Regions from separate parts of the Homo sapiens genome. Here region 1 is linked to region 2. Evidence: fine-mapped expression QTL. Tissue or cell type: cerebellum. Region 2 holds a variant in brackets; the other region holds the start of a gene. All regions are shown on one strand. Distances are between the middles of the regions.

The links. PIP is the estimated chance that this variant, and not a neighbour inherited with it, causes the effect.
Region 1: RBP3 starts here. The variant in region 2 is fine-mapped to the expression of RBP3 in cerebellum (GTEx, PIP above 0.99). The same link has a PIP of 0.9 or more in cerebellar hemisphere.

What each region holds. Positions count from the first base shown.
Region 1 is chr10:47,347,000-47,349,754 of GRCh38, forward strand. It overlaps RBP3 (retinol binding protein 3), which reads left to right and starts at 1,364. Exons shown (of 4, transcript NM_002900.3): 1 at 1,364-2,755. The coding sequence starts at 1,486.
Region 2 is chr10:47,367,475-47,370,229 of GRCh38, forward strand. ZNF488 (zinc finger protein 488) reads right to left here. Exons shown (of 2, transcript NM_153034.4): 2 at 1-1,463. The coding sequence starts at 1,355. The coding sequence ends at 333. Among named protein-coding and RNA genes, the nearest start is that of ZNF488, 15 kb to the right of the region's middle. The variant C/T (reference allele first, on the strand shown) is at 1,293.

The sequences.
Region 1 (2,755 bases), 20 kb before region 2:
ATTGTGGGTCTCAGCTGTGTAGAGAAAGCCCACGTCCCTGAGACCACCTTCTCCAGCTGCCTACTGAGGCACACAGGGGCGCCTGCCTGCTGCCCGCTCAGCCAAGGCGGTGTTGCTGGAGCCAGCTTGGGACAGCTCTCCCAACGCTCTGCCCTGGCCTTGCGACCACTCTCTGGGCCGTAGTTGTCTGTCTGTTAAGTGAGGAAAGTGCCCATCTCCAGAGGCATTCAGCGGCAAAGCAGGGCTTCCAGGTTCCGACCCCATAGCAGGACTTCTTGGATTTCTACAGCCAGTCAGTTGCAAGCAGCACCCACATTATTTCTATAAGAAGTGGCAGGAGCTGGGATCTGAAGAGTTCAGCAGTCTACCTTTCCCTGTTTCTTGTGCTTTATGCAGTCAGGAGGAATGATCTGGATTCCATGTGAAGCCTGGGACCACGGAGACCCAAGACTTCCTGCTTGATTCTCCCTGCGAACTGCAGGCTGTGGGCTGAGCCTTCAAGAAGCAGGAGTCCCCTCTAGCCATTAACTCTCAGAGCTAACCTCATTTGAATGGGAACACTAGTCCTGTGATGTCTGGAAGGTGGGCGCCTCTACACTCCACACCCTACATGGTGGTCCAGACACATCATTCCCAGCATTAGAAAGCTGTAGGGGGACCCGTTCTGTTCCCTGGAGGCATTAAAGGGACATAGAAATAAATCTCAAGCTCTGAGGCTGATGCCAGCCTCAGACTCAGCCTCTGCACTGTATGGGCCAATTGTAGCCCCAAGGACTTCTTCTTGCTGCACCCCCTATCTGTCCACACCTAAAACGATGGGCTTCTATTAGTTACAGAACTCTCTGGCCTGTTTTGTTTTGCTTTGCTTTGTTTTGTTTTGTTTTTTTGTTTTTTTGTTTTTTAGCTATGAAACAGAGGTAATATCTAATACAGATAACTTACCAGTAATGAGTGCTTCCTACTTACTGGGTACTGGGAAGAAGTGCTTTACACATATTTTCTCATTTAATCTACACAATAAGTAATTAAGACATTTCCCTGAGGCCACGGGAGAGACAGTGGCAGAACAGTTCTCCAAGGAGGACTTGCAAGTTAATAACTGGACTTTGCAAGGCTCTGGTGGAAACTGTCAGCTTGTAAAGGATGGAGCACAGTGTCTGGCATGTAGCAGGAACTAAAATAATGGCAGTGATTAATGTTATGATATGCAGACACAACACAGCAAGATAAGATGCAATGTACCTTCTGGGTCAAACCACCCTGGCCACTCCTCCCCGATACCCAGGGTTGATGTGCTTGAATTAGACAGGATTAAAGGCTTACTGGAGCTGGAAGCCTTGCCCCAACTCAGGAGTTTAGCCCCAGACCTTCTGTCCACCAGCTGAGAAGGACAAGGGCGGAAGGCAGCTGCACAGAGCAGGGCCACGGCCTTGCACACAGTCCAGGGAGCTTTTGTGCAGGAGCCAGGCCTCCCCCTGGGTCCCCATGATGAGAGAATGGGTTCTGCTCATGTCCGTGCTGCTCTGTGGCCTGGCTGGCCCCACACACCTGTTCCAGCCAAGCCTGGTGCTGGACATGGCCAAGGTCCTCTTGGATAACTACTGCTTCCCGGAGAACCTGCTGGGCATGCAGGAAGCCATCCAGCAGGCCATCAAGAGCCATGAGATTCTGAGCATCTCAGACCCGCAGACGCTGGCCAGTGTGCTGACAGCCGGGGTGCAGAGCTCCCTGAACGATCCTCGCCTGGTCATCTCCTATGAGCCCAGCACCCCCGAGCCTCCCCCACAAGTCCCAGCACTCACCAGCCTCTCAGAAGAGGAACTGCTTGCCTGGCTGCAAAGGGGCCTCCGCCATGAGGTTCTGGAGGGTAATGTGGGCTACCTGCGGGTGGACAGCGTCCCGGGCCAGGAGGTGCTGAGCATGATGGGGGAGTTCCTGGTGGCCCACGTGTGGGGGAATCTCATGGGCACCTCCGCCTTAGTGCTGGATCTCCGGCACTGCACAGGAGGCCAGGTCTCTGGCATTCCCTACATCATCTCCTACCTGCACCCAGGGAACACCATCCTGCACGTGGACACTATCTACAACCGCCCCTCCAACACCACCACGGAGATCTGGACCTTGCCCCAGGTCCTGGGAGAAAGGTACGGTGCCGACAAGGATGTGGTGGTCCTCACCAGCAGCCAGACCAGGGGCGTGGCCGAGGACATCGCGCACATCCTTAAGCAGATGCGCAGGGCCATCGTGGTGGGCGAGCGGACTGGGGGAGGGGCCCTGGACCTCCGGAAGCTGAGGATAGGCGAGTCTGACTTCTTCTTCACGGTGCCCGTGTCCAGGTCCCTGGGGCCCCTTGGTGGAGGCAGCCAGACGTGGGAGGGCAGCGGGGTGCTGCCCTGTGTGGGGACTCCGGCCGAGCAGGCCCTGGAGAAAGCCCTGGCCATCCTCACTCTGCGCAGCGCCCTTCCAGGGGTAGTCCACTGCCTCCAGGAGGTCCTGAAGGACTACTACACGCTGGTGGACCGTGTGCCCACCCTGCTGCAGCACTTGGCCAGCATGGACTTCTCCACGGTGGTCTCCGAGGAAGATCTGGTCACCAAGCTCAATGCCGGCCTGCAGGCTGCGTCTGAGGATCCCAGGCTCCTGGTGCGAGCCATCGGGCCCACAGAAACTCCTTCTTGGCCCGCGCCCGACGCTGCAGCCGAAGACTCACCAGGGGTGGCCCCAGAGTTGCCTGAGGACGAGGCTATCCGGCAAG
Region 2 (2,755 bases):
ACAGCTAGTATGTGAAAGAGCCCAGATTCGAATCCAGGCTTGTGTGCCTCCAAAGCCCATGATGTGTGCCAGGAGTTGCCCCTGCTCTCTGTGCCTGTTAGGGCCTCTACCCTGGATTTGCAAAGCCCATCACTTTATTTCAGGACTTCATTTCCTTCAAAACACATCATGCAGGTGTGGCTTTTTCAAATTATGCCTGAGCTGTTTATCTATGAATGCCAAAAGCAGCAGCTCTGCAAAGGACCATGACAGCCCCCTCAACGCAGGCCCAGGGAGCCCCCCTCTGCCAAAGGCTGGCTGCTGCACCCAGCAGGTCATTCTGCGGTCACCTGCTAGCTGTGAGAAGTCATGTGCCGGGAGAGGTGGTGGCGCTCCCGGAAGTGCTCCTGGCACACAGGGCAGGCAAGGGCCTCTTCTCTCCGCTTCTGAGAATGTGGGTCAGGCCCCGCATGCTCCTTTTTGTGGTGGGATCGCATGTGAAAGACCAGGTCGGACGTTAGGCGAAAGGACAGGTTGCACTTTGCACACCAGTTCTGGGTGGACAAGCCCAGGGAGGTGAGGGTGGGTGGCAGGAGGGCCCACGAAGTGGTGGAGGATGATGAGGGTGGGGGCACCTGGGCCTGGGTATGCTCCAGCCACAGTGTAGGGGCACCCAGAAAAGTGCTACAGAGTGGAGCATTCTGTGGCAATGCTTGCAAGTTCCACAAATCACCAACCAAAAGCTTGGGAGTTGAAAGTCGACCCCAACAAGCGAGGTCTGTAGTGTTGAGGAGTCCAGACAGCTCCCCCAGGGCATCTGCAGATTCCCCTGCAGGGAAGACTGAGGTTAGCTCAGGCCTCTCTGCTGGTCGCTTGGTTGGTTTGCTAAAGGCGCTTCTTTGCTCACTTCGTGCTCCGCTGGGCCACACAGAGAAGACTTTGCTGCCAGCTGGGCCTCTGGGGATGTTCTGGGTCAGCTGTGGGGCACCAGGTTGGCCTGTGGGGTCATCGTGCTCCCTCTCCTGGGCCTGAGCATCCACCTGCCGGTCCTTCATCCTCGGCAGCTCCGTGAAGGCGCTCTGCCTCTGCTCTCCACGTGTCTTCGGGGGCAGCGGCTTGCCAGGTCGGGGCTTGCCTGGGGCTACCAACAGTGCCAGCTCCGCACTGCCCACATCCCGGCCCGCCCTGCCCACAGCAGCCTCAGGGCCCAGGCGGTTCGTCTTCTCGAGCAGCACTGGCTTGCAGCCCCGGCCCAGCTCAGGTTCGCTAAGTCGCCATCTGTTTTCAGCCGATGGGCTCAACGGGGCTCCCTT[C/T]CCAGCTGCCATGGTGATCACCAGGGCCGGGGCCACAGATAAGCAAGGTGGCCACTCTGGCATTCATCAGTCTTTGGGGGTTTGGGGTTCTGGAGGGCTTGGCCCAGCAAGGAGCCATGAGATATGGAAGCTCCCCATGACACTGGGCTGGACACACTCGGCCACAGGGCCCTGCAGAGAGAGGAAGCGACAGGCAGTGAGATGGGCATTCATCACTCAGGCACAGTGCATCATGAGCTGGCATCAGACAGGACCCTGATGCTCAGGCCTCCTCCGCTGTCTGTGGGATGGGTGTGCTGACTGCACCACCTCTCAGGAGACAAGGAGCATGGATGGCACCATCCTCCAGGGCCCACCTCCCTGAGGCAGAGTAGGGACTGAGGTCTCTGCTGAAAATGCCCATGGGCAGCAGCCTCTACAGCTCAGTAGAGAGAAACGTAGGATTCCCCTGTCAAAAGTGGTTCCTGGGGATTAACCAGGCATGAAATGGAGAGTCTGCAGGGGAAGGGAAAGAGCCTGCTCTGGGGGCTGCATTAGGGCCTTGGGGGCCCTTCAGAAGTTTCTGGGTCATCTGTCAACAAGTAGACTCCATCATGAGGAAGCCATGCACCCTCAGCCCCTGCTCCATGCTCGAGCTACCTCTGGCCCTGGCTGAGTGCTGAGGGCACAGGGAGGCCGCAGCATGAGGGTCGCAGTGTTGGAGGACCATGGACTTCATGGTCTTTGCTCCTCATGCAGCCCTCTCTGTCCCGACCCTAATTTCAACCCATTGCTCCTCGGTCTACCAGACCTGCCTCCCAGCCTGGTGGCCCCTTTGTCCACATCACATGCCCTGTCAGCTTCTGCGCGGTCTCTGATTTTCTCAGAGCCATGCTTCTTGTGAGAGTCAAGTGTCCCCACTCTTCCCCCAACTCCCAAGTACATGTGGGCAGCTTCATTCCCATCGTACCTGTGAACTCATTCCAAAATGCACCTCAGGCACAGTCTCCCCTTGAGGCTTGCCCAGTGCTCTCAGACACAGACAACACTCCCTCCTCCATGCCCTCACTGTCCTGGGCACCAAAGGCCTGCATGCACCACGTGCAACATTATATTTACTTGTTTGTGGTCTGCTAGAAGGCAAACTCTAAGAACCCAAATATGTCAATTCACCTTCACATCTGTAGTACTTAATCAAGCCTGCAACAGGACAGGAGCTCAGGAAGCCTTTGCTGAATGAATGAATGAATGAATGAATGACAGGACAGCAACTGTTAGAAAGAAGTCAACTTCCTCCTCCCAAAGAGTGTGGAGACCTGCTCCTGCACAGAGAGGAGAATGTGAGCCCTCCATATTCCCATAGGGCCAAGGGAGGAGACATCCGCATGGTGAGAAGGGCGAGGAGCCTACTGCAGCCTGCCTCTGAGCTTCTCCACCTCCTGCTCCTTCCCTGTGCTCCTTGCTGGGCACTTGGCCCCTGCCCA